Regions from separate parts of the Homo sapiens genome. Here regions 2, 3, 4, 5, 6 and 7 are each linked to region 1. The links come from fine-mapping of genetic effects on gene expression. A gene starts in region 1. Each other region holds a variant in brackets. All regions are shown on one strand. Distances are from middle to middle. Region 1 holds the start of NNT (nicotinamide nucleotide transhydrogenase). Region 2 overlaps NNT (nicotinamide nucleotide transhydrogenase). Region 3 has its middle 190 kb from the start of NNT-AS1. Region 4 has its middle 220 kb from the start of NNT-AS1. Region 5 overlaps C5orf34 (chromosome 5 open reading frame 34). Region 6 overlaps TMEM267 (transmembrane protein 267). Region 7 overlaps CCL28 (C-C motif chemokine ligand 28).

Region 1 (4,000 bases):
GTGATATAAATTTATAAGCAAGTCAAAATTAAATAATGTACTGAGCATTAATTTAAGCCAGGATTTTTCAGCCTCAGCACTATTGACATTTGGGGCTGGATAATGCTTCGTCGTGAGGGGCTGTGTAGTGTGAGGTGTTCAGTAATATCCCTGGCCCCAACCCATTAGATAGGTCCCCTCTCCAATTGTGACAACCAAAATGTCTCTAGACATTGCCAAATATCCCTCGGAACTAAATTGTCCCCAGTTGGGAACCACGAATTATTAATCCCTAAAAGACAAAGCAGCAACTCCTGACCCCTACAAAAAGTTTTAAATCAATAACTTAGTTTAAAATCCTTACTAAGTGGGATCATTACTAATCTCACTTCATTGTACCTTCAGTATCTGGAAACCGTCCCTATGGTCACACTTACCACGGCTCATTATTATTTTAAAACATGGGGCTGTGTCATTTCCTGTCTGTGAGTTTGGACTGCAGTGGGAATCCATTAGTTGAATGACCTTCTGTGTAGGTTAATCACAAGACAAGTTCTCAAACTAAGGGTTTCCCTGCGGCTCATTTCTTTTTAAAGTTATGGAATACCTGTTCTGCTTATACCTTTTAGATTCATAATTATTTTTCTTGTATCAAAATTTCAATTAATAGAAATAAATGACGTTACTGACACTTCATGATGATTAAGTTTTGGGCAAGTGAACCATTTTACACTCTATTTTTTATTCCTCCCACTTTTAGTCAGAATACACCTGCAGAATAAGTAACAGAACTGTGTGAAAAGAACGACTAGGTCATTACGGTTAATAGTTTTAGAAAAACAGCCGAGGCCTGGTCTGGAAAGCTCACAACCTCCACCCAGATGCTTTCCAGCCTCGGGGATATTCGTACTAGCAGTGACACTAGCCAGCTTCCTCTAGGCTGGCTCTGATGTTGGAAGACAAGCACGCAGATGTGTGTTACTTTTCAAGCCTGGACATCGTTTCTGAGGAATTTAACTCCACCTCTCCTGCCAGAATGGAAAATCAACGCCCCCCATTCCCGCCCTTCACCAACCCCTCTCCGCCTGCCCCTTTCCCTTGGGTCCTCTCTGTTACAGAAGTTCTGATTTTTCCTAGCGAGCTGGAGGAAAGGCAGGTACCCGGAGTGGAGTTATATTACCTGTTTCTTTGTTCTGATGGGACCCCAGAGAGGACATCACGCTTTGTAACTGGTTCTTCAAGGGGAGAAGCAAATGTGTCCCTGAAAACTTCAGCTGCCGCGTTTGGCACCAGGTTTGATTGACAAGGACTGGCGGAGGGAAAGCGCGGAGGCTGGGCTGGGGGCCGCAGGCCGAGGCAGAGACAAAGAGGTTTCGCCTGTCCCCGAGAGTGGAAGGGCCCCTGGGGGTAACTAGCCTTTGAGCTCAAAGGGGCATTTCGTGAGGTCGCCTTTTGGTTCGGAGAGCGCGCGGCGATCGGGTGGAGGGGGCCTGGCGGGAAGAAAGCTGGGGCGGGGAAGGGGCGCGGGCCGAGGTGGGAGCGGAGCTGCAGTCACGTGGCCGCCCGCCGCCGCGGAGTTGGGGCTGTTCTTCCGGGTTGGAGGCGCAGCGCCGCGGGGCCCAAGCCCGGGTCTGCCAGCGCGACGTCCTCTCGCGGCCCTCAGGGCACAGCCCAAGGCTGTCAGCCTCCCGGCCCAGGTGAGCGCGACGGCACTGGCGGGTGCGGGCAGCCGGGGCGCGCGCCTAGGGCGCAGCTGGGAAAGGGGCTCGGGCCTTTCCTGAAGACCACGGCCCTCGCCGGGAGAGAGACCTGTCAAAGAGCAAAGCGGGGCGGGGTCGGCGGTGTCCCGGGCGCAGGGTGCATTGGGGTGTCCGCAGGCCGCAGGCTTAGGTGGGGAAGAAGCACCGTGCCTCTTGGTGTCCCTTTCTCGTCTCCTGCTGGGGCGATGTCGAAGGGAGTGGGCTGGTGGATTTGGGAACTGGGTCCCCGAAGAGGGCAGGGAATGAGGCGGCAGCTGTGCAGGTGCAGATATTTGCAGCTTTGGGGGACAGCGAGAGTCGTACGGGGTCATTTCGGCCCTCAAGATCGGGGGTGGTGGAGAGGGAGGTCATAGAGGACTTTCGATGGGCGGTTCATCCAGAGAGGTGGCAGCTGGATGCCCTTGAGGTATGCTTGACCCTTGAGGGAGTTCGGAGAGGGTGTCCGGCTGGGGACATAGGAGATTGCGAGCACAAATTGTGAGTGTGAGTTGGGGCGGTCTGGCGGTGGTGGGTACAAGTTTCTGGGGCCTAGGCTGGTGAGGAGGAAGAGACAGCGGAGAGGGCGACCTGGGCAGAGCTAGTTCAAACTCAACAGCCGGAATGACTATTTGCAGCCGTGGCCAATCGGCTTCCTAGGGAGGTTATAAATAGCGGTCTCGTGCAGATGCCAGCGGGTGGCAGTTAGTTGCCGAGCAAGGGACGGCACCGGTGGCAGTAGCCGTGACACCAGTGGCTTTGGGTGAGGTCACGGCGCCTGCCAGCCGAAGCTGGCTCAGTAGGGTATTGTGTCCTTGCTGGTATGTCTCGCTTTTAAAAGCGTGACTTGTTTATGGTTGCCGGTGTCCTTTATTCACCCTGTGGCGCCGGCCAGTCCTTAGGTGGTCTGTTTGTCAGGAGTCTTGTAGGACAGACTTATTCGGAGAAGCGCGTGGGGCTTAGGTGCCTACCTACTCTTCTTATTTAAAGTGTGCCCCTTTTCTTCATTGCACCCCTTTTATTTGTAAACCTTGACTTTTTATTAACAGACAGTTTAGGATTGCCTTCTTTCCAGCAGGTGCGCTTAGGCTGCTTACCTTGGTGATAGAATCAGTTTTCCACAAGGCTACACAAACATTTCCTTTTCAAAGGAAATTTTCCGAAAATCCTTGGAAAATGTGCTCAATAGGTACTTAGGCTTAAGGTCACCTAGCCCTATTCATTCAGTCAAAAATACTGACTTCCTCTGTGTTGTGCAAAGCACTGGGGGAGAGTAATACCAAAGTGAATATAACAGCTGATAAGGATATTCTCAGTCCTGGCAACAACCCTGAGAGGTAGGTGCTGTTATTTTATTTTTTCAAGTCTCGCTCTGTTGTCCAAGCTGGAGTACAGTGGCACAATCACGGCTTACTGCAGCCTGGAACTCCTGGGCTCAAGTGATTCTCCCACCTCAGACTCCCAAGTAGCTGGGACTTCAGGCTTGCACCACCATGCCCTGCTAATTAATTTTTTTTTTTTAGCAATGGGGGTCTCACTGTGTTGGCCAGGCTAGTCTTGAATTCTTGGCCTCAAGCAGTCCTCCCCACTAGCCTCCCAAAGAGATGGCATTATAGGCGTGAGCCACCACCCTGGGTGGGTGCTATTATTCCCCATTTTAAAGATGAGGAAATTAAGTACAGGGAAGTTAAGTGACTTCCCAAGGTCACACAGCCAATAAGTTGCAGAGTGGGGCTTCCAATCCGCAGATCCAGAGCTGACTCTCTTAAATATCTGTGGTATCCTCCCTCTTTAGGTTGGGTGCTTTCCCTCAAGGATTTTAATATCTAATAGGGGAAATAACCCATATAAGTTACATTAAACATACATATGAAAGCAATGCTTAAAAAGTTGTGCTTTTGGGCCGGGCGCGGTGGCTCACGCCTGTAATCCCAGCACTTTGGGAGGCCGAGGCGGGTGGATCATGAGGTCAGGAGATCGAGACCATCCTGGCTAACAAGGTGAAACCCCGTCTCTACTAAAAATACAAAAAATTAGCCGGGCGCGGTGGCGGGCGCCTGTAGTCCCAGCTACTCGGGAGGCTGAGGCAGGAGAATGGCGTGAACCCGGGAAGCGGAGCTTGCAGTGAGCCGAGATTGCGCCACTGCAGTCCGCAGTCCGGCCTGGGCGACAGAGCGAGACTCCGTCTCAAAAAAAAAAAAAAAAAAAAAAAAAAAAAGTTGTGCTTTTTTCCCCTAATTTTGAGTTATAAAGTTTTTTTCTTATTGCTTCAAAGCCACAGGAAC
Region 2 (4,000 bases), 56 kb after region 1:
TTTATACAATACAAGTAAGATAGTCTCTGCCCACCAGTTGCTCTTACATCATTGGAAGATATGACACGAAATCAAATAAGTATAAAATGAAATGCAGTTAAAAAACCCTGTATGCTCAGTGAGAGTATTCAGTGAAGGCTTTTATGATAGGTTTGGCTTTCTTCTTTCTCTGCAATTTTTATATTTAGTGTATTGAAACACACAGTAGTTTTTAGTTGTCTATGTGACAGTCTGGCATCTTATATCAATGTATGATGCTGTTTTATGCAGCGCTATTTACTGTTATTCACTGTTACTCATGTTCTTTCAGTGTGTAATCCGTAGACAAGGTTTATATTTAAGTTAAAAAAATTATCTACAGTAACTAACACAAAGTTAGACACATAGCAATTGCTTATGAAATACTTACTGGCTCCTTGATTGAGAAACACCTAATTTATAGTGTAAAAATGATACTTATTTTTGTGTGATCATGGCAGTTAGGTCATGATTTTAACACAGAAATTTTAGAACACTGAAAAGTAAATTAAAATCTCATCTTTATATTCACACTCATGGTCTAATTTTATTCTGGCTTATTGCACTGGTTTTTGTTTTAAACAAAAGAAAAATAATTTTGATATTTTTAATCTAATAAAGCAGAATAGGTTGATGAAGTCTCAAAATAAAAGATATACAAATGTGATTGGGTGAGGTGGCTCATGACTGTAATCCCAGCACTTTGGGAGGCCGAGGTGGGTGGATCACCTGAGGTCAGGAGTTTGTGACTAGCCTGGCCAGCATGGTGAAACCCCGTCTCTACTAAAAATACAAAAATAAGCCGGGTGTGGTAGTCTGCGCCTGTATTCCCAGCTGCTCGGGAGACTGAGGCAGGAGAATCGCTTGAACCTGGGAGGCGGAGGTTGCAGTGAGCCGAGATCATGCTATTGCACTCCAGCCTGGGTGACAAAGCAAGACTCTGTCTCAAAAAAAAAGAAAGAAAAAAAGATATACAAATCTAAAACTTTAAGAATTGTTGTTTTTGGGAAGCAGTGACTATGATATTTAAAGGATTTATTGGTTCTATGAGAATGTCTGACTAAGACAAAGTATTTTTTGAATTTATTTTATTGCTTTTGGCTTAAATGAGTAATACATGAATATGCTCTCATTGTAACAAACAAAAAAAGGTAAAAACATGTGAAATAAAAAGCAAAAAGCTTTTTCCTTTCATGTGTTTAGTAATTTCGAGTTGTATCACGGACATTGTTAATGATACATTATAGACATTTTGGATGTTATGTTATATTCCTTCAAAGGGTATTGATTATTATTATTTATTTATGTGTTTTTGTAGCCAGCTAACTTGGCTAAACTCAAATTCCAAATTTTGACTCCCTTATGGTGGGTGGTGGGGGGCAGCTGAAATCTATTGTTATTTTATCCTTAACAGGATTGCTTGGAGTCTGTCTCACATATGTGTAGTTCAAGAGTCATCCAGAGATTTGAGTAGAATTTATAAACAGAAACTGGGACTCCTTCCCTCTAGCCTGCTTCTTTGTGGGATTCCCCTTATTACTTTCCAGCTGCCTTAGTCATCTCAAATGCTATCTTCAGGATCTTCAAGTCAGTAAGACTGTGGGCTTATATTTTATAATTTCCTTAACTGGTACCAACAGGGGATTGCCCTCAGTCTAAAGCCATAAAAACTGGGAAATTCACTTAGTGTCATTGTATTTTTCCAAATGTAGACGCTTCTCCAGTTTCTGCCTGCTTTTCATCACTGAAAAGTGTTTTTTTAAAATGTAGGGATTTTTTTTTAGGGGGGTGGGTGGCTCAGTGTTTATAGTTGTTATACCTGTGGAAGTGTTGGTCAGATGGGAGACACTTATTACCGGAAGTGGAACTTATATGTAAATATATTAATGGGAAAACTAGAATAATTAAGGAGCAAAATGTTAAATGTCAGAGGTTTTATTTTTATGTTATTAATTTTGAGTTCTGATTTGATTGTTGTTCTAGGGTGTGACTTTGACAGCTGCTATTGGGGGTGCTGACATGCCCGTCGTTATCACTGTGCTGAACAGCTACTCAGGCTGGGCCCTGTGTGCAGAGGGCTTCCTGCTCAACAACAATCTGCTGACCATCGTGGGTGCACTCATAGGCTCGTCTGGTGCTATCCTGTCATACATCATGTGTGTGGTAAGAAACAACACATACATGAAACAAAAGGAAATGGCTTCCTGAAAACATGGATGTGCATGTCATTTCTTTTATTACCCATAAAAATGAATATTGTAGGCTGGGCATGGTAGCTCAC[A/G]CCTGTAATCCCAGCACTTTAGGAGGCCAAGGCAGGTGGATCACGAGCTCAGGAGTTCAAGACCAGCCTGCCCAAGATAGTAAAACCCTGTCTCTACTAAAAATACAAAAATTAGCCAGGCGTGGTGGTGGGTGCCTGTAATCCCAGCTACTTGGTAGGCTGAGGCAGAGAATTGCTTGAACCCAGGAGGCAGAGGTTGCAGTGACTGAGATCATGCCACTGTACTCCAGCCTGGGTGACATAGCGAGACTCCATCTCAAAAGAAAAAAAAAAGAGTATGGTAGCTTTGAATTCTCTTCAGCAGACATAGCAGAGTATTTCATTTGCATAAATTTCCAAGACTGCCTTTAAGGTACCCAACTGTAAATAATTAGGAAAATTAAATAGAAAGATGAAAATCTTCTAGTGCCTCTCTCCATCTGGAGATAAACAGGTAAGATTTTGGTTTATTTCCTTATGTATGGCATATCTGTGTATTTACTTGTCTGATCGTGTTGTATATTGTCCTACATTTAAAAAAACTTATATACTATATTGTTGACTTTTTGTCATTAAAAATTCTTTTAAAATATTATTTTAAGAGACTTTATCGTGATCCATCATATGGATATACAAAATTTATTTAATTTGCCCTTAATGCTATACATATGAAGTTGTTTGATTTTGATTTCTCTTTGTACATATCTTTGACATTTCAGATTTTTGTCTTAAGATAGATTCCTAGAATTTATAGGCTCATTATACTTATAGCCATGTTTCTGGAAAGGTTGTTCTAATTTACACTCCTGTTGGTCATCTGTGAGAGTTTCTACCTTAGAAGTTTTGTGGTCAGCATGATGGTTTTTTAAAAGAACAGAAAAAAGTAACAACACTAATACTTCCTAGCTTTTCTGTTTGTTTCAAGTTCTCTTCTTGATGGCAAGAAGATGTTCTGCAAATATTATAATTAAAGGTTTGAGTAGAACTTTTTTTTTCAAATTATGGATGTTATTTTCTAAATAATAATGAAACTAAATGAAAGCAGAACGTGATTTTACACTGATAAATAATTTAGACAAGAAAGGGATCTGTATTAGTCCATTCTCACACTGCTGTAAAGAACTACCTCAGACTGGGTAATTTATGAAGTAAAGAGGTTTAATTGACTCACAGCTCCACAGGCTTAACAGGAAGCATGACTGTGAGGCCACAGGAAGCTTACAATCATGGCAGAAGGTGAATGGGAAGCAAGCACATCTTACCATAGCGGAGAAGGGGAGAGAGTGAAGGGGGATGTGCCACACACTTTTAAAGCACCAGATCTCGTGAGAACTCACTAGCATAAGAACAGCAAGGCGGAAGTCAGCCCCCATAATCCATCACCTTCCACCAGGTCCCCCCGTGGCATGTGGGGATTACAATTCGACATGAGATTTGGGTAGGGACTCAGAGCCAAACCATATCAGATACTTACTCTACCTTCATTCTTTTATTATAATATTTTAAAAAACTCGCTTATTTTACAACTCAGGATTTTTCTTATGATTTAACTGAAAATCTCATTGTAATTTGGAAGGCTGAAGTATCTTTTCATAGTAAAAAATATTTTTGTTTCTTAGGCTATATTGCAAAACAAAGGATTTGATAGCCCAAATTCAAAACAAGCTAAGGGGTTTTAAAATTAAATAGCCTAAATTACCTGGGGAATTTGGAAAGGTGAAG
Region 3 (4,095 bases), 190 kb after region 1:
CAGATGATCAAACTACTCCGAGCTAAAGGAGGAAGTTCCAACCCATGGCAAAGAGGTTAAAAACCTTGAAAAAAAATTAGATGAATGGCTAACTAGAATAACCAATGCAGAGAAGTCCTTAGAGGACCTGATGGAGCTGAAAACCATGGCATGAGAACTATGACAAATGCACAAGCCTCAGTAGCCAATTCAATCAACTGGAAGAAAGGGTATCAGTGATGGAAGATCAAATGAATGAAATGAAGTGAGAAGAGAAGTTTAGAGAAAAAAGAATAAAAAGAAATGAACAAAGCCTCCAAGAAATATGGGACCATGTGAAAAGACCAAATCTATGTCTGATTGGTGTACCTGAAAGTGATGGGGAGAATGGAACCAAGTTGGAAAACACTCTTCAAGATATTATCCAGGAGAAATTCCCCAATCTAGCAAGGCAGGCCAATATTCAAATTCAGGAAATACAGAGAACACCACAAAGATACTCCTCGAGAAGAGCAACTCCAAGACACATAATTGTCAGATTCACCAAAGTTGAAATGAAAGAAAAAATGTTAAGGGCAGCAAGAGAGAAAGGTCGGGTTACCCACAAAGGGAAGTCCATCAGACTAACAGCTGATCTCTCGGTAGAAACTCTACAAGCCAGAAGAGAGTGGGGGCCAATATTCAACATTCTTAAGGAAAAGAATTTTCAACCTAGAATTTCATATCCAGCCAAACTAAGCTTCATAAGTGAAGGAGAATAAAATCCTTTACAGAGAAGCAAATGCTGAGAGATTTTGTCACCACCAGGCCTCCCATAAAAGAGCTTCTGAAGGAAGCCCTAAACATGGAAAGGAACAATGGTACCAGCCACTGCAAAATCATGCCAAATTGTAAAGAACATCGAGGCTAGGAAGAAACTGCATCAACTAAGGAGCAAAATAACCAGCTAACATCATAATGACAGGATCAAATTCACACATAACAATGTTAACTTTTAATGTAAATGGGCTAAATGCTCCAATTAAAAGACACAGACTGGCAAATTGGATAAAGAGTCAAGACCCATTTTATTCAGGAAACCCATCTCACGTGCAGAGACACACATAGGCTCAAAATAAAGGGATGGAGGAAGATCTACCATGCAAATGGAAAACAAAAAAAGGCAGTTGTTGCAATCCTAGTCTCTGATAAAACAGACTTTAAACCAACAAAGATCAAAAGAGACAAAGAAGGCCATTACATAATGGTAAAGGGATCAATTCAACATGAAGAGCTAACTATCCTAAATATATATGCACCCAATACAGGAGCACGCAGATTCATAAAGCAAGTCCTTAGAGACCTACAAAGAGACATAGACTCCCACGCCATAACAATGGGAGACTTTAACACTCCACTGTCAACATTAGACAGATCAACAAGACAGAAAGTTAGCAAGGATATCCAGGAACTGAACTCAGCTCTGCACCAAGCAGACCTAATACACATCTCCAGAACTCTCCACCACAAATCAACAGAATATGCATTCTTCTCAACACCACATCGCACTTATTCCAAAATTGACCTCATTGTTGGAAGTAAAGCACTCCTCAGCAAATGTAAAAGAACAGAAATTATAACAAACTGTCTCTCAGACCACAGTGCAATCAAACTAGAACTCAGGATTAAGAAACTCACTCAAAAACTGCTCAACTACATGGAAACTGAACAACCTGCTTCTGAGTGACTACTGGGTACATAACAAAATGAAGGCAGAATTAAAGATGTTCTCTGAAACCAATGAGAACAAAGACACAACATACCAGAATCTCTGGGACACATTTAAAGCAGTGTGTGAGAGAAATTTATAGCACTAAATGCCCACAAGAGAAACAGGAAAGATCTAAAATTGACACCCTCACATCCCAATTAAAAGAACTAGAGAAGCAAGAGCAAACACATTCAAAAGCTAGCAGAAGGCAAGAAATAACTAATATCAGAGCAGAACTGAAGGAAATAGAGACACAAAAAACCCTTCAAAAAATCAATGAATCCATTAGCTGGTTTTCTTGAAAAGATCAACAAAATTGATAGACCG[C/T]TAGCAAGACTAATAAAGAAGAAAAGAGAGAAGAATCAGATAGACGCAATAAAAAATGATAAAGGGGATATCACCACCAATCCCACAGAAATACAAACTACCATCAGAGAATGCTTTAAACACCTCTAACCAAGTTAACTAGAAAACCTAGAAGAAATGGATAAATTCCTTGATGCATACACCCTCCCAAGACTAAACTAGGAAGAAGCTGAATCCCTGAATAGAACAATAACAGGCTCTGAAATTGAGGCAATAATTAATAGCTTACCAACCAAAAAAGTCCAGGACCACATGGATTTACAGCCAAATTCTACCAGAGGTACAAGGAGCAGCTGGTACTATTCCTTCTGAAACTATTCCAATCAATAGAAAAAGAAGGAATCCTCCCTAACTGATTTTATGAGGCCAGCATCATACTGATACCAAAGCCTGGCAGAGACACAACAAAAAAAGAGAATTTTAGACCAATATCCCTGATGAACATCGATGCAAAAATCGTCAATAAAATACTGGCAAACTGAATCCAGCAGCCCATCAAAAAGCTTATCCACCGTGATCAAGTGGGCTTCATCTCTGGGAGTCAAGGCTGGTTCAACATACGCAAATCAAGAAACGTAATCCAGCATATAAACAGAAACAATAACAAAAACCACGCAATTATCTCAATAGATGCAGAAAAGGCATTTGACAAAATTCAACAACCCTCCATGCTAAAAACTCTCAATAAATTAGGTATTGATGGGATGTATCTCAAAATAATAAGAGCTATCTATGACAATCCCACAGCCAATATCATACTGAATGGGCAAAAACTGGAAGCATTCCCTTTGAAAACTGCCACAGGACAGGGATGTCCTCTCTCACCACTCCTATTCGACATAGTGTTGGAAGTTTTGGCCAGGGCAATCAGGCAGGAGAAGGAAATAAAGGGCATTCAATTAGGAAAAGAGGAAGTCAAATTGTCCCTGTTTGCAGATGACATGATTGTATATCTAGAAAACCCCATCGTCTCAGCCCAAAATCTCCTTAAGCTGATAAGCAACTTCAGCAAAGTCTCTGAACACAAAATCAATGTGCAAAAATCACAAGCATTCTTATACACCAATAACAAACAAACAGAGAGCCAAATCATGAGTGAACTCCCATTCACAATTGCTTCAAAGAGAATAAAATACCTAGGAATCCAACTTACAAGGGACATGAAGGGTCTCTTCACAGAGAACTACAAACCACTGCTCAATGAAAAAAAGAGGTTACAAACAAATGGAAGAACATTCCATGCTCATGGGTAGGAAGAATCAATATCGTGAAAATGGCCATACTGTCCAAGGTAATTTATAGATTCAATGCCATCCCCATCAAGCTACCAATGACTTTCTTCACAGAATTGGAAAAAACTACTTTAAAGTTCATATGGAACCAAAAAAGAGCCCACATTGCCAAGTCAATCCTAAGCCGAAAGAACAAAGCTAGAGGCATCACGCTACCTGACTTCAAACTATACTACAAGGCTACAGTAACCAAAACAGCATGGTACTGGTACCAAAACAGAGATATAGACCAATGGAACAGAACAAAGCCCTCAGAAATAATGCCGCATATCTACAAATATCTGATCTTTGACAAACCTGACAAAAACAAGAAATGGGGAAAGGATTCCCTATTTAATAAATGGTGCTGGGAAAACTGGCTAGCCATATGTAGAAAGCTAAAGCTGGATCCCTTCGTTACACCTTATACAAAAATTAATTCAAGATGGATTAAAGACTTAAATGTTAGATGTAAAACCATAAAAACCCTAGAAGAAAACCTAGGCAATACCATTCAGGACATAGACATGGGCAAGGACTTCATGTCTAAAATACCAAAAGCAATGGCAACAAAAGCCAAAATTGACAAATGGGATCTCATCAAACTAAAGAGCTTCTGCAGAGAAAAAGAAACTACCATCACAGTGAACAGTTAACCTACAGAATGGGAGAAAATTTTTGCAATCTACTCATCTGACAAAGGGCTAATATCCAGAATCTACAATGAAC
Region 4 (4,095 bases), 220 kb after region 1:
TCTTACTGAGAGAGAATATCATTAGCTACATTTTACCCGTATGAAAACTAATTAAGTAACTTACTTTAAAGTTGTATAGCTAGTTTTTGGCAGAAAAGACAAGAATTTTAGTTTCCTGAGTCCACATCTGATTTTCTTTCCATGGTACTAAATTGCCTATCTTGCAAAGTTAGGGGCATGTCCGCCTATGATTCCAAGCCCCTAAATAGTCCATTCATCTGTTGTTGGACACCTAGATTGATTCCACATCTTGGCTACTGTGAACAGTGCAGCAATAAACATGGGAATGCAGATGTCTCTTTGACGTAATAATTTCTTTTTCTTTGGATATATACCCAGTAGTGGGATGAATGAATCATATGGTAGTTTCATTTTTAGGTTTTTGAGGAACCTCCATACTGTTTTTCATTGTGGTTGTGCTAATTCACTTCCCCACAACAGTGTATAAGAGTTCCTTCTCCACAACCTCACCAGCATCTGTTATTTTTAGTATTTTTAATAGTGCTATTCTAACTGGGGTAGGATAATATCTCATTGTGGTTTCGATTTGCATTTCTCTGATGATTAGTGATGTGGAACATTTTTTTCATATACCTGTTGGCCATTTGTATGTATTATTTTGAGAAATGTCTATTCATATCATTAGCCCACTTTTTAATGGGATTTCTTTTTAAATGGAGGAGTTGTTTGAATTTCTTGTATATGCTGGATATTAATCCCTTTTCAGATGAATAGTTTGCAAATATTTTTCTCTCATTCTGTAAGTTGTATCTTCACTCTGTTGATAGTTTCTTTTGCTGTGCAGAAGCTTTTTAGTTTAATATAATCCTATTTGCCTATTTGTTGTGGTTGTCTGTGCTTTTGAGGTCTTAGCCATGAAATCTTTGCCTAGACTGATGTTTTGTTTTTTCTCTTTATTTTTTTTTCTAGCAGTTTTATTGTTTCAGGTCTTACATTTAAGTCTTTAATCCATCTTCAGATGATTTTTGTGTATGGGGAGACATAGGTGTTCAGTCTATTCTTATGCATATCGTGAATTTCAAATTTTCCCAAAACTATTTATTGAAGAATTTCCTTTCCCCAGTGTATGTTCTTGGCACCTTTATTGAAAATCAGTTGGCTATAAATAAGTGAATTTAATTCTGGTGTCATTATTCCGTTTCACTGGTCTATGTGTCTGTTTTTATATCCTTAACAATCCTGTTATTATAGCTTTCTAATACATTTTGAAGTGAGATAGATGATGCCTTCAGCTGTGGTCTTTTTGCTCAGAATGGTTTTGGCTATTCTGGCTCTTTTTCTTTCTTTCTTTCTTTTTTTTTTTTTTTTTTTTTTAGTATTTATTGATCGTTCTTGGGTGTTTCTCGGAGAGGGGGATTTGGCAGGGTCATAGGACAACAGTGGAGGGAAGCTCAGCAGATAAACATGTGAACAAAGGTCTCTGGTTTTCCTAGGCAGAGGGCCCTGCCGCCTTCCACAGTGTTTGTGTCCCTGGGTACTTGAGATTAGGGAGTGGTGATGACTCTTAACGAGTATGCTGCCTTCAAGCGTCTGTTTAACAAAGCACATCTTGCACTGCCCTTAATCCATTTAACCCTTAGTGGACACAGCACATGTTTCAGAGAGCATGGGGTTGGGGGTAAGGTTATAGATTAACAGCATCCCAAGGCAGAAGAATTTTTCTTAGTACAGAACAAAATGGAGTCTCCTATGTCTACTTCTTTCTACACAGACACAGTAACAATCTAATCTCTCTTTCTTTTCCCCACATTTCCCCCCTTTCTATTCGACAAAACCACCATTGTCATCATGTTCTCAATGAGCTATTGGGTACACCTCCCAGATGGGGTGG[C/T]GGCCGGGCAGAGGGGCTCCTCACTTCCCAGATGGGGCAGCCGGGCAGAGGCAACCCCTCACCTCCCAGAGGGGGTGGCTGGCTGGGCGGGGGCTGCCCCCCACTTCCCGGACAGGGCGGCTGGCCGGGCGGGGGCTGCCCCCCACCTCCCAGATGGGGCAGCTGCTGGGCAGAGATGCTCCTCATTTCCCAGATGGGGCGGCTGCTGGGCAGAGGGGCTCCTCACTTCCCAGATGGGGTGGCTGGTCAGAGACGCTCCTCACCTCCCAGACGGGGTGGTGGCAGGGCAGAGACACTCCTCAGTTCCCAGACAGGGTCACGGCCGGGCAGAGGCACTCTTCACATCTCAGATGGGGCGGCAGGCCAGAGGTGCTCCCCACATCCCAGACGATGGGCGGCCGGGCAGAGACGCTCCTCACTTCCTAGATGGGATGACGGCCGGGAAGAGGCACTCCTCACTTCCCAGACTGGGCAGCCGGGCGGAGGGGTTCCTCACATCCCAGACGATGAGCGGCCAGGCAGAGACGCTCCTCACTTCCTAGATGGGGTGGCGGCCGGGCAGAGGCTGCAATCTCGGCACTTTGGGAGGCCAAGGCAGGCGGCTGGGAGGTGGAGGTTGTAGCGAGCCGAGATCACACCACTGCACTCCAGCCTGGGCAACATTGAGCACTGAGTGAGCGAGACTCCGTCTGCAATCCCAGCACCTCGGGAGGCCAAGGCTGTCAGATCACTTGCAGTCAGGAGCTGGAGACCAGCCTGGCCAGCACAGCAAAACCCTGTCTCCACCAAAAAAAAGAAAACCAGTCAGGTGTGGCGGTGTGCCCCTGCAATCCCAGGCACTTGGCAGGCTGAGGCAAGAGAATCAGGCAGGGAGGTTGCAGTGAGTCGAGATGGCAGCAGTACAGTCCAGCCTCGGCTGGGCATCAGAGGGAGACCGTGCAAAGGGTAGGGGGAGGGGGAGGGGGAGGGAGAGGGAGAGGGAGAGGGAGAGGGACTATTCTGGCCCTTTTTTGGTTCCATATGAATGAATTTTTTTTTTCTGATTCTGTGAAAAATGACATTTATATTTTTGATAGAGGTGGCATTGAACATGTAGATTACTTTCAGCACTATGGTCATTTTAATGATATTCTTCTAATTCCTGAACATGGGATGTCTTCCAATTTGTTTGTATCTTCCTAAGTTTCTTTACTTAGTGTTTCATAGATTTCCTTGTAGAGATCTTTCATCTCCTTGGTTAAATTTATTCCTAAGTATTTTATTTTTTGTAGTTATTGTAAATAGGATTGCTTTCTTAGTTTCTTTCTCAATAAGTTCATTATTGGTGTATAGAAGCACTACTGATTATTCTTTATTGATTTTGTATCCTACAACTTTAATGAACTTATTTATCAAATCTAGCAGTTTTTTTGTTGGAGTCTTAAGATTTTTCTAGATAAGATCATATCGTCAGCAAAACAGGACAATTTGAATTCCTCTTTTCTAATTTAGATGCCCTTTATTTCTTTCTCTTGCCTGATTGCTCTGGCTAGAACTTGTAGTGATATGTTGAGTAGGAATGGTGAAAGCAGACATCCTTGTCTTGTTCCAGATCTCAGAGGAAAGCTTTCAGTTCTTCCCCATTCAATATGATGTTAGCTGTGGGTTTGCCATATATGACCTTTATCATTTTGGGTATGCTTTTTCTATTCCTAGTGTGTTGAGAATTTTTATTGTGATGGGATGTTGAATTTTATCAGAGGCCTTTTCTGTATATATCGAGGTGATCATACGGCTTTTGTCCTTTATTCTATTGATGAGATAAATTATGTTTATTGATTTGTATGTTGAACCATACTTGCATCCCTGCTGTAAATCCTACTTCGTAATAGTATACTATTTTGGTAATGTGCTGTTAGATTGGTTTGCTAGTATTTTCTTGAGGGTTTTTATGTGTATGTTCATCAGGGATATTGACCTATAGTTATATTTTTTGCTGTGTCCTTTTCTGGTTTTCATATTAGAGTAACACTATTCTTATACAGTAAGTTATGGAAAGTTCCCTCTTCTTCAATTTTTTGGAATAGTTTAATGAGGATTGGTATTAATTCTTCTTTATAAGTGTGGTAGAATTTAGCTGAGATTCCATCCAGTTCTGAGCTTTTCTTTCTTCCTTTCTTTACTTTTCTTTCTTTCTTTCTTTCTCTCTTTCTTTCTTTCTTTCTTTCTTTCTTTCTTTCTTTCTCTCTTTACTTTTCTTTCTT
Region 5 (4,095 bases), 110 kb before region 1:
ACAGGTCTCAAAATTCTGTGACAAATTTTTGGTCAAGTTGTTTCCATTAAAAAGTACTGATTTTAAAAACTAATAACTTAAAACTACCACATGCAAAAAAGAAAACCAAAGTGGTCCACAAAACATTCTCCTTTCCTTCTGAAGGTTTTACGATGCATTGTTATCATTAACCAGTCTTTCACTACTAAACTTAAATGGCCAATTGAAACAAACAGTTCTGAGACCATTCTTCCACCACTGATTAAGAGTTGGGTGGCAGGTATTAGGGATAATATTCATTTAGCCTTCTGAGCTGTCTGGGCAGACTTCGTGACCTTGCCACCTCCAGCAGCCTTCTTGTCCACTGCTTTGATGACACCCACCGCAACTGTCTGTCTCATATCACGAACAGCAAAATGACCCAAAGGTGGATAGTCTGAGAAGCTCTCAACAATGGGCTTGCCAGGAACCATATCAACAATGGCAGCATCACCAGACTTCAAGAATTTAGGGCCATCTTCCAGCTTTTTACCAGAACCGCGATCAATCTTTTCCTTCAGCTCAGCAAACTTGCATGCAATGTGAGCCGCGTGGCAATCCAATATAGGGGCATAGCCAGCGCTTATTTGGCCTGGATGGTTCAGGATAATTACCTGAGCAATGAAGTCAGCTGTTTCCATTGGTGGGTCATTTTTGCTGTCACCAGCAACGTTGCCACGACGAACATCCTTGACAGACACATTCTTGACATTGAAGCCCACATTGTCCCCAGGAAGAGCTTCACTCAAAGCTTCATGGTGCATTTCGACAGATTTTACTTCTGTTGTAATGTTGACTGGAGCAAAGGTGACCACCACACCAGGTTTGAGAACACCAGTCTCCACTCGGCCAACAGGAACAGTACCAATACCACCAATTTTGTAGACATCCTGGAGAGGCAGGCGCAAGGGCTTGTCAGTTGGATGAGTTGGTGGTAGGATGCAGTCCAGAGCCTCAAGCAGCATGGTGCCGCTGGCACTGCCATCCTTACGGGTGGCTTTCCATCCCTTGAGCCAAGGCATGTTAGCACTCGGCTCCAGCATGTTGTCACCATTCCAACCAGAAATTGGCACAAATGCTACTGTGTCAGGGTTGTAACCAATTTTCTTAATGTAAGTGCTGACTTCCTTAACAATTTCCTCTTCTCTCTTCTGGCTGTAGGGTGGCTCAGTGGAATCCATTTTGTTAACACCAACAATTAGTTGTTTCACACCCAGTGTGTAAGCCAGAAGGGCATGCTCTCAGGTCTGCCCATTCTTGGAGATACCAGTTTCAAATTCGCCAACACCAGCAGCAACCATCAGGACAGCACAGCCTGAGATGTCCCTGTAATCATGTTTTTGATGAAGTCTCTGAGTCCTGGGGCATCAATGATAGTCACATAGTACTTGCTGGTCTCAAATTTCCACAAGGAGATATCAATGGTGATACCACGTTCACGCTCAGCTTTCAGTTTATGCAAGACCCAGGCATACTTGAAGGAGTCCTTTCCCATCTCAGCAGCCTCCTTCTCAAATTTTTCAATGGTTCTTTTGTCGATGCCACCACATTTGTAGGTCAGATGGCCAGTAGTGGTGGACTTGCCCGAATTTACGTGTCCAATGACGACAATGTTGATATGAGTCTTTTCCTTTCCCATTTTGGCTTTTAGGGGTAGTTTTCACAACACCTGTGTTCTGGTGGCAAACCCATTGTGGGAAAAAAAAGCCATTTTCCCATTTTTTAAAAATATAGAATTACTCCTATTCATTCAAAAGTTTTTTTTA[AT/A]TTTTTTTTTTTTTTTTTTTTTTGGAGACAGGGTTTTACTCTGTTGCCCAGGGCTGGAGTACAGTGGCGCAATTACAGCTCACTGCAGCCTCTGTGGCTCAAGGAGTCTTCCCACCTCAGCCTCCCAAGTAGCCAGGACCACAGGCACATGCCACCATACCGGGCTAATTTTTTAAGTTTTTTTGTAGAGGCGAGGTCTTACTATATTACCCAGACTAGTCTCAAACTCCTGGGCTCAAGGGATCCCAAAGTGCTGAGATTACAGGCATGAGCCACTGTGCCTGGCCCAAAAGTTACATTCTAATAACTTATTGTGCAATTTAAATATTAGCTACATTTACATTAACATGGTAACCAAACTAATTTTCCTACACATTAGCAGGAAATTTATCATGAGCCACCCCTTTCCCTTAAGACAAAAAGACATGGATATATAGATTTAAAAAAACTATTTTAATTGAATGAATATACCATTTTGCTACATTAATGGAAGAAATACTGCTACAGTTTGTGGAAGAAAAAATTATTTACAGGCGGAGGTTACTGAAATTTGAAAAAAATTGTTATTTTAAAATTCTTTCTGAGTTTCCTCCTCCTCAGACTTGCTAGTGTTTCCCAGCACTCTGTCTCCAGCCTTCTCTTCTGACTTCTTGATTTCTTTTTAGATAATACTAAAAGGGTCCAAAGCTGTGTTCACATTAAATATCATAATAGCAACAGCTAACATTTGTGGAGCAGATACTATGCGCTAGGCACTATCCTACTCACTTTACATGGATTATCTCATTTATTCCTCAAAATAATTCTGAGATAACTATTAATGCTTGTTCTTCAGATGAGAAAACTGAGACTGAGGGCTAAGAAACAGTAGAGATCTGATTTAAACCACCAAGAGAGTGCAGCTCATACTCTTTACCATTAGGGGAAGAAGAGGGGCTTCAAAGTCAGACAGATGTGGATTCAAATCACAAGTCTGCCTCTTACCAACTATAATGATGGGCAGGCTATACAACCTTTTGTAAGCCTCAGTGCCTGCAGCCTGTGAAATGGGGATACTGCCTACCATCCAGACTTATCTGAGGATTAATGATATAATATACATATGAAGTTCCTGGGACAGAATTTAGCATATAATAGGTACCAAACAAAAGTCTTTGTCCTTTTATCTTGGTCTACAGACCTGACTATCTAAATCTCTATTGGGCTTCTCTTTTGGCTATGAAAACAGACACCTCAACATCACCATGTTAAAACTGGAATTAGCGTCATTTCAAAATTTGCACTTTCACTTTCTCTACGCTGTATTTACCTTTGGTATGTCATTTATCACGTTGTTCCCTCTACCTAGAACTCAGTTCCCTCCTCCAGCACCTCCCTTTGCCTAGCTAACACCTGTTTTTCCTTCCGTCTCAGGGAAGCCATTGCAGAGGTCTCATAGACTAGGAGAAATCCCCTAGTTATGTCCACAAGCACAGTTCCCTCTAATCCTGCCTCTTGGTCTTAATTACAACTTCAATTTAATAGTTTTTTACTTAATGTCTGTTTTCCCTGTTAGAATGCAGCTCCATGAAGGAAGGGGCTGTGTCTGTTTTGCTCATGTCTGTATCATTATCATTTATTAGCACAGTGCTTAGCACATGGGAAGCACTCAAAATACCATATTTTAATTATTTATGTCTTTCTCTACTGGATATTGAGTTCCCTCTGGGTTCTTATTTCCAAGACCCTATTTCATCAACTCTAAAATGCTCATTTTTCACAATTTAACCTCTCTGAAATCTGGATCCATCTTACAATTAAGAGTGTCTTATAATCTATTAGGCAGGTGGGGTTGAGATATAGTTGAATTTTAATAATCTCAAATCCTTAATTGACATCTCATGGTAGGCGCAAAAGAAAAAAAAGCCATCATCAAAAAAATTTAGATTTGATAAAAATTTTGGTTTCACACAGTACCGGGCACCACCATTCATTGATTAATAATTTGGCATCCCTTTCAACTCCTTCCTCATCCTCAGCGTCCAGTCAGCAATCAATTCTGTCTCCTTAATATTCCTTCTCATTTTTCCTACCACTGCCTGGCCTTCACTTGAACTACTATACATGTCTTCTGACTGGTTCTACAGCTTCAAGTTTTACCTCTTCCCCACCCAGTTCATCTTCCTCTGAAATAATCTAACAAAAATCTGATGTCACTTCCCTACTTGAAATCATTCAATGGTTCCCCAAATGCAGTGAGGTTACTCATGCTCCAGTTGTGAGCTGGCCATCTTAGTGATCTGGCTTCTTCTCTGGACATTTCCCCCAGCA
Region 6 (4,095 bases), 130 kb before region 1:
TTAAACAAAATTGGCAAAACTTTAGCCAGACTAAGAAAAAAAGAGGGAAGATAAAAGAGAGAAGATAAACAACTTCAGTAAAGTTGCAGGATACAAAAGCAACATACAAAAGTCACTAGCATTTCAATATGACAATATTGAACAATGTGAAACAGAAATTTTTAAAGTAATTCCACTTATAATAGCCACACATAAAATTAAATACCTAGGAATTAACCAAAGAAGTGAAAGATTTCTATAATGGAAAGTATAAAACAGTGAAGAAAGAAATTGAAGAGGACACCAAAAAATTGAAAAATTATCCATGTTCATGGACTGGAGGAATCAATATTGTTAAAATGTCCATAATACCCAAAGCAATCTATAGATTCAATGCAATCCCTATCAAAATACTAATGACATTCTTCACAGAAACAGAAAAAAAAAAAATCCTAAAATTTATATGGACCCACAAAAGGCCCAGAATACCCAAAGCTATCCTAAGCAAAAAGAACAAAACTGGAAGAATCACATTACCTGATTTCAAATTATACTACAGAGCTATAGTAACCAAAACAGCATGGTTCTGACATAAAAACAGACACATCAGCCAATGAAACAGAAAAGAGTACCAAGAAACAAATCTGCACACCTATAGCGAACTAATTTTTGACAAAGGTGCCAAGAACATACACTGGGGAAAAGACAGTCTATTCAACAAATGGTAATGGGAAAACTAGATATCTATATGCAGAAGAATGAAAGTAGACCCCTATCTCACACCATATACAAAAATCAAATCAAAATGGATTAAAAACTTAAATCTATACTTCAAACTATTAAACTACTACAAGAAAACATTGGGGAAAATCTCCACGACATTGATGTGGGCAAAAATTTCTTGACCAATATCCCTCAAGCACAGGTAACCAAAACAAAAATGGACAAATGGGATCACATCAGGTTAAAATGCTTCTGCACAAAGGATACAATCAGTAAAGTGAAGAAAAAAACACAGAGAACGGGAAAAAATATTTGCAAATTACCCATCTGACAAAGGAATAATAACCAAAATACGTAAGTGCTCAAACTGCTCTATAGGAAAAAAAATACAATAATCTAATAAAAAATGGGCAAAATATTTGAATAGACATTTCTCAAATGAAGACATAGAAATGGCAAACAGGCATATGTAAAGGTGCTCAGTATTTTTGATCATCAGAGAAATGCAAATCAAAACTATAATGAGGTATCATCTCCCCCAGTTAAAATGGCTTATATCCAAAAGACAGGCAATAACAAATGATGAAGAGGATGTGCAGAAAAGGGAAACCTTGTACTCTCTTGGTGGGAATGTAAATTAGTACAGCCACTATGGAGAACAATTTGAACGTTCCTCAAAAAACTAAAAATTGAACTACCATATGATCCAGCAATCCCACTGCTGGGTATATACCGAAAAGAAAGGAAATCAGTATATCAAAGAGATATCTACACTCCTATGTTTGTTGCAGCATTGTTTACAATAGCTAAGATGTGGAAGCAACCTAAGGGTCTATCAACATATGAATGGATAAAGAAAATATGGTGCATATTCACAATGGACTACTATTCAGCCATAAGAAAGAATGAGATCCAGTTATTTGCAACAACATGGATGGAACTGGAGAACATTTTGCTAAGTGAAATAAGCCAGACACAGAAACACAAATATCACATATTCTCACTTATTTGTGGGATCTAAATATCAAAACAATTGAACTCGTGGACATAGAGAGTAGAAGGATCATTACCAGAGGCTGTGAAGGGTGGTGGGGGGTCAGCAGGGGGAGGTGGGGATGGTTTATGGGTACTAAAAAAACAGAAGGCCGGGC[A/G]CGGTGGCTCACACCTGTAATCCCAGCACTTCAGGAGGCCGAAGTGGGCGGATCACAAGGTCAGGAGTTCAAGACCAGCCTGATCACCACAGTGAAACCCTGTCTCTACAAAAAATACAAAAATTAGCCGGGTGTGGTGGCGTGCACCTGTAATCCCAGCTACTCAGGAGGCTGAGGCAGGAGAATCACTCGAACCCAGGAGGCGGAGGTTGCAGCAAGACGAGATCACGCCACTGCACTCCAGCCTGGACTACAGAGCGAGACTCCGTGTCACAAAAAAAAAAAAAAAAAAAAAATAGAAAGAATGAGTAAGACCTAGTACTTGATAGCACAACAGGGTAACTACAGTGAATAATAACTTAATTGTACATTCAACATAGTTCTGGCCAGGGCAATCAGGCAAGAGAAAGAAATAAAGGGTATTCAATTAGGGAAAGAGGAAGTCAAATTGTCTCTGTTTGCAGATGACATGATTGTATAATTAGAAAACCCCATCGTCTCAGCCCAAAATCTCCTTAAGCTGATAAGCAACTTCAGCAAAGTCTCAGGATACAAAATCAATGCGCAAAAATCACAAGCATTCCTATACACCAATAACAGACAAACAGAGAGCCAAATCATGAGTGAACTCCCATTCACAATTGCTACAAGGAGAATAAAATACCTAGGAATACAACTTACAAGGGATATGAAGGACCTCTTCAAGGAGAGCTACAAACCACTCACTGATCAAGGAAATAAGAGAGGACACAAACAAATGGAAAAACATTCCATGCTCATGGATAGGAAGAATGAATATCATGAAAATGGCCATACTGCCCAAAGTAATTTACAGATTCAATGCTATCCTCATCAAGCTACCATTGACTTCCTTCACAAAATTGGAAAAAACAACTTTAAATTTCACATGGAACCAAAAAACAGCATGCATAAATAGCCAAGACAATCCTAAGCAAAAGGAACAAAGGTGGAGGCATCACGTGACCTGACTTCAATCTATACTACAAGGCTACAGTAACAAAAACAGCATGGTACTGGTACCAAAACAGATATATAGATCAATGGAACAGAACAGAGGCCTGAGAAATAACACCACACATCTACAACCATCTGATCTTTGACAAATCTGACAAAAAAAAGCAATGGGGAAAGGAATTCCTAGTTAATAAATGGTGTTGGGAAAACTGGCTAGCCATATGCAGAAAGCTGAAACTGGATCCCTTCCTTACACCTTATACAAAAATTAACTCAAGATGGATTAAAGACTTAAACGTAAGACCTAAAACCATAAAAACCCAAGAAGAAAACCTAGGCAATTTAGGACACAGGCATGGGCAAAGACTTCGTCTTTTGTTACCAAAAGCAATGGCAACAAAAGCCAAAATAGACAAATGAGATCTAATTAAACGAAAGAGCTTCTACACAGCAAAAGAAACGATCATCAGAGCGAACAGGCCACCTACAGACTGGGAGAAAATTTTTTGCAATCTATCCAACTGAAAAAGGGCTAATATCCAGAATCTACAGAGAAACCAATTTACAAGAAAAAAGCAAACAACCCCATCAAAAAGTGGGTGAAGGATATGAACAGACACTTCTCAAAAGAAGACATTTGCCAGGCGTGGTGCTCACGCCTGTAATCCCAGCACTTTGGGAGGCTGAGGCAGGTGGATCACCTGAGGTCGGGAGTTCGAGACCAGCCTGACCAACACGGAGAAATCCCATCTCTACTAAAAATACAAAATTAGCCAAGCGTGGTGGTGCATGCTTGTAATCCCGGCTACTCGGGAGGATGAGGCAGGAGAATTGCTTGAATCCAGCAGGCAGAGGTTGTGGTGAGCCAAGATCACGCCATTGCACTCCAGCCCGGGCAACAAGAGCAAAACTCTGTCTCAAAAAAAAAAAAAAAAAAAATGAAAAAAGGCTCATCATCACTGGTCATTAGAGATATGCAAATCAAAACCACATCTCACGCCAGTTAGAATGGCGATCATTAAAAAGTCAGGAAACAACAGATGCTGGAGAGGATGTGGAGAAATAGGAACGCTTTTACACTGTTGGTGGGAGTGTAAATTAGTTCAACCAATGTGGAAGACAGTGTGGCGATTCCTCAAGGATCTAGAACTAGAAATACCATTTGATCCAGCAATCCCATTCCTGGGTATATACCCAAAGGGTTATAAATCATTCTACTATAAAGACTCATGCACACGTATGTTTATTGTGGCACTGTTTACAATAG
Region 7 (4,082 bases), 200 kb before region 1:
TTTATTTAAAACACATACACGAAAAAAACGTGTGTTCAACTAAAAACCCGGAAAAGGAAAATCAGAGGAAACAAAGCACGAGAAAAAAAGAAAGAAAGAAAGAAAGAACGAAAAAAGAAAAGCACGACGTTATGGCGCTTTGAGGCTGTCGCGCTACTGGTATCTGTAGTCGTGGCTGCCGTGGACCAGGAGAGACTGAAGTGGAAAACAGCGGGCGGTAGCCGAAGCAGAGAGCAAGGAAGAGCGCGGGAAGTGCAGAGCGACAGCAACAAGAAAGGGGTGGCGCGGGACGTCGTTTACCTGGGCGACGTCCAGCCGCCCTTCCCGCCTCTGCGCGTACGCAACCTGCTTGGCGCCACTGACCTGGTGAGGAGGCTTCTTTAAGGCCGTGGACGGTTCCTACCCGCGCGCGGAGAGGACCGACGTGAAGAAGCTGCCAAAGTATAACAAGTACTACGCGAAGGGTAGGTAGGGTGGAGTCCCAGGCAGCGCGTGACGGCCGGATGCCCAGACGCGCACGTCGCCCGCAGGCGCACGCCTGGACCCGGGGGAGCCGGCTGGGGCGCCCAGGACCAGGCCTAGCCTACCGCGGGCTGCCCTTCACAGAGCTGCAGGAGAAAACGTTGTATTGTGCACGCATTCCCTAACCCTTACTAGTTTTTTTTTTTTTAATTGATCGGCCAGCTTTTGATGCGGGTATGTTAAAATCTCCCACTGTTATTGGGATTATGCCAGTTTTTTTTTTTCTTGCATTTCTGTCTACTTATGTGATACAACACTTGGGGTTATGTTTTCAGACGCCCAAGTACCCTCCTGGTCCACAGCCAGAATTAAAATGAGGCACGAGCCTCAGGTGCAGAATTTAAGGGACCGCCAAAAGAACTCCGTAATGAAGATAAGCAATATTTGGATGCAATATTTTTAAAAATAAAAATTAATGCAAAAAAGTCTATGATTAGTAAAATGCTGCAATTTTAAATAAAAACAAAATCTGACTGCATTTTCACGCCTCGATCATCTCTCTTGCCTCACAGGAGTCTGGGCCCTAGAGATAGCTTTTCTGTGAAGTGAACTTTTTTATCTTTCGGTTAAGATTCCTCTATTTCTACTATAACTTTTTGCTTAAATCATATTTTTCTGTTATTGACATTGCTACACTAATCTTTTGGTTTGTATTCATTTATTCTCTCTTTTTTTTGCGTTTTTAAATCCTTTTTCTTTGCTTTTTATTCTTTCTGTTGGAAAGGTATTTTCTGTATTTCCTTTATTAATATTTTTCTACTAAAAATTTAGGCAGAGTTGGGTCAAGAAAAAGCTCCCTTGGGAAAAATGTCTACAATATCTAGTACCGACATGTTTCTTTTTGAATCGTAGAAGTGTGTTATTTTACTAATTCAAGTGATTGTCACATCAGTAAAATTCTAGAAGCATTTATAGGGTGCTGCCTGCATTGTATCAGTCTTTGTAACAGACACCGAGTATATAAGAATTAATAAGTCATAGTACCTGCCCTCAGGGCGCCTACAATTAGCAATTAGCAGACTTTTTTTTCTTTTTTTCCTTAGATAAGATCTTGCTCTGTCACCCAAGCTGGAGTGCTGGAGTGCAGTAGTACAAACACAGCTAACTGCAGCCTTCACCTCCTGGCGTCAAGTGATCCTCTTGCCTCAGCCTCCCGTGTTGCTGGGACCACCGGTGCACACCACCATGCCTACCTAATTTCTTTATTTTTTTGTAGAGATGGGACCTCACTTTGTGCCCAGGCAGAGCAGACATTTTTCTAACATTGTCTCATTGGACCTCTCTGCTGTATTTAACACTTACCCATTCCTTCCTTGAAAATTTCCATATTCCTAGTTACTAGTCTCTTCTAATATTCTGAATAATGAGAAATTACAGCTGGGCACAGTGGCTCATGCCTGTAATCCCAGCACTTTGGGAGGCC[A/G]AGGCAGGAGGATCACGAGGTCAGAAGTTCAAGACCAGCCTGGCCAAGATGGTGAAACCCCATCTCTACTAAAAATACAAAAAAATTAGCCGGGCATGGTGGCAGACGCCAGTAATTCCAGTTACTCAGGAGGCTGAGACAGAGAATTGCTTGAACCCGGGAGGTGGAGGTTGCAGTGAGCCGAGATTGTGCCACTGCACTCCAGCCTGGGCGACAGAGAGGGACTCCATCTCAAAAAAAAAGAAGAGAAATTACTTTCTCTGCCTCTTGAATGCGTCCTCCTTTGCCCTCTCCTCAATAGTTAGCATTCTGAAAGTGCCATCCCTAACCTACTGCTCTTTTCTTTCCACATCTCATGTTTAAAATTTTTACTATGTCAGTAACTTCAAAATGTGTTTTTTTAGCTCTACCCAAATATTCTGATGTGTATCCACCTGCCATTGAATATGCACTTGGATATCCCACAGGCACCCCAAACTCAACAGAGCCGCAACTGAAGACATCATCTCCTGCCACTTTAAATCTACTGTTTTCCTTTTCTCATCTCGTTTAATCACTTTGTACTGTTATCCAAGTGTAATTCCATCTTCTGCACTCCCATGGCCAGTCAAACTCCTGTAGATTGTATTTTCCTTAACACTTTTCAGATCTGTCTCCTCTTTCTCCTTGTTACCACTCTTAGTTCAGGACCTTATTAATTGACTTCTGGACTGCTGAACCTCTCAGTTGTCTACTTTCTTCCAATTTTGTCATTTCCCCATTTGAATCTGAGGTCCCACAGTACCTTGTGCTTTCCTATATCTTAGTCTTTACCATGTATGACATTAAGAGTCTATATGACTGTCTTTTGACTGTAAGCTCCCACAGGGCATCTTTGTAACCCCCCACCACATAGCACATTGTCTGGTATTAGTGCTAAAAAAGTTTCTTGGACTGAACTAAGCTCCGATCTTATCAGTGTTTCATTTTTATCTTGTTTTAAGGCTTTTAATGTCCAAAATATTTTTGCTTTTTTTCTAGGAATAGTATTTTCAGTTTTTGGTCAAGCTCTTATGTCCCAAATTATCTACAATTACACAGTGCTTTTCATAGGTACCATCCCTGCACATTGAAGTAATAAGGGGTCAGTCAATATGATAAATCATTTGTTCACTATATGTAATATTGTAAAGATGTTTTTAGTATCTGATCAAAAGCATTCCTATTTGTCTTATTATGGTGTTATTTCTTTTCTTTTTTTTTTTTTTGGGAGACCGTCTTGTTCTGTTGCCCAGGCTGGAGCGCAATGGTGTGATCACGGCTCACCGCAGCCTTGAATGCCCAGGCTCAAGTGATCCTCCTGCCTTAGCTGCCCAAGTAGCTCGGACTACAGGTGCACCCCACTATGCCTGGCTAATTTTTAAAATTTTTTGCAGAAACAGGGTGTTGTATGTTACCCAGGCTGGTCTCAAACTCCTAGCCTCAAGCAATCCTCCCACCTCAGCCTCCCAAAGTGCTAGGATTATAGGCATGAGCCACTGCACCTGGCCTTATTCTGGTGTTATTTCTATTAGTTTTGGATTATTGTCATTATTATTCCCAGTATTAAGTGTATGGATGATTTTCCAGGAATGTGAGTCCCTGTTTTGGTTCTGTCTATGATACAGTTTTAGTCACTAGAGGGCTGTAAAGATCTCTTAGTGCTCAAGAACTGTTGGCACTACACATCAAATTTGTGATACAAAAGTTAGATTCTGGGTTTTGTTATTGTTGGAGAGTGGGGTCTCACTCTATTGCTCAGGCAGGTCTCGAACTCCTGGACTCAGGCTATCCTCCCACCTTTGTCTCCCCAAGTGCTGGATTACAGGCGTGATCCACTGCGCCTGGCAGATTTTGGGTTTTCAGGAAAGGATCTTGCTATTGTAGAGACGTGAACAGCTTCCTCTTACTTGGATGTGTTGTATAGGATCTCACTACTCAAAGTGTGGCTCCCAGAGCCACAACAATGGCATCACCTGGGAGCTGATTAGAAATGCAATTTGAAAGGCACTGGTACTATATATAGAACACAGCAAAATAGAAACAGAGTAAAGAAAGGCACATGCAATTATTGGAGAAAGGATTTGCAGACTAAAGATAAAAATGATATAAAAGATTC

What was found. PIP is the estimated chance that this variant, and not a neighbour inherited with it, causes the effect.
Region 2: its variant is fine-mapped to the expression of NNT in whole blood (TOPMed, PIP above 0.99).
Region 3: its variant is fine-mapped to the expression of NNT in whole blood (INTERVAL, PIP above 0.99).
Region 4: its variant is fine-mapped to the expression of NNT in lung (TOPMed, PIP 0.99).
Region 5: its variant is fine-mapped to the expression of NNT in whole blood (INTERVAL, PIP above 0.99). The same link has a PIP of 0.9 or more in monocytes.
Region 6: its variant is fine-mapped to the expression of NNT in blood mononuclear cells (TOPMed, PIP above 0.99).
Region 7: its variant is fine-mapped to the expression of NNT in whole blood (TOPMed, PIP above 0.99).

What each region holds. Positions count from the first base shown.
Region 1 is chr5:43,601,619-43,605,618 of GRCh38, forward strand. NNT (nicotinamide nucleotide transhydrogenase) reads left to right here and starts at 1,562. Exons shown (of 22, transcript NM_182977.3): 1 at 1,562-1,676. It overlaps NNT-AS1 (NNT antisense RNA 1), which reads right to left and starts at 1,612. Exons shown (of 3, transcript NR_073113.1): 1 at 1,160-1,612. RefSeq lists silencers at 910-1,129, 1,393-1,482, 1,603-1,822.
Region 2 is chr5:43,657,170-43,661,169 of GRCh38, forward strand. It overlaps NNT (nicotinamide nucleotide transhydrogenase), which reads left to right. Exons shown (of 22, transcript NM_182977.3): 17 at 2,002-2,181. Among named protein-coding and RNA genes, the nearest start is that of NNT-AS1, 56 kb to the left of the region's middle. The variant A/G (reference allele first, on the strand shown) is at 2,300.
Region 3 is chr5:43,792,807-43,796,901 of GRCh38, forward strand. No RefSeq gene overlaps it. Among named protein-coding and RNA genes, the nearest start is that of NNT-AS1, 190 kb to the left of the region's middle. The variant C/T (reference allele first, on the strand shown) is at 2,057.
Region 4 is chr5:43,822,563-43,826,657 of GRCh38, forward strand. No RefSeq gene overlaps it. Among named protein-coding and RNA genes, the nearest start is that of NNT-AS1, 220 kb to the left of the region's middle. The variant C/T (reference allele first, on the strand shown) is at 1,853.
Region 5 is chr5:43,494,798-43,498,892 of GRCh38, forward strand. All of the region lies in intron 6 of C5orf34 (chromosome 5 open reading frame 34), which reads right to left. The region is part of intron 2 of C5orf34-AS1 (C5orf34 antisense RNA 1); the gene reads left to right. It also overlaps the pseudogene EEF1A1P19. Among named protein-coding and RNA genes, the nearest start is that of C5orf34-AS1, 13 kb to the left of the region's middle. The variant AT/A (reference allele first, on the strand shown) is at 1,785.
Region 6 is chr5:43,471,013-43,475,107 of GRCh38, forward strand. All of the region lies in intron 1 of TMEM267 (transmembrane protein 267), which reads right to left. Among named protein-coding and RNA genes, the nearest start is that of TMEM267, 11 kb to the right of the region's middle. The variant A/G (reference allele first, on the strand shown) is at 1,854.
Region 7 is chr5:43,396,672-43,400,753 of GRCh38, forward strand. All of the region lies in intron 1 of CCL28 (C-C motif chemokine ligand 28), which reads right to left. Among named protein-coding and RNA genes, the nearest start is that of CCL28, 14 kb to the right of the region's middle. RefSeq lists silencers at 448-507, 558-647. The variant A/G (reference allele first, on the strand shown) is at 1,946.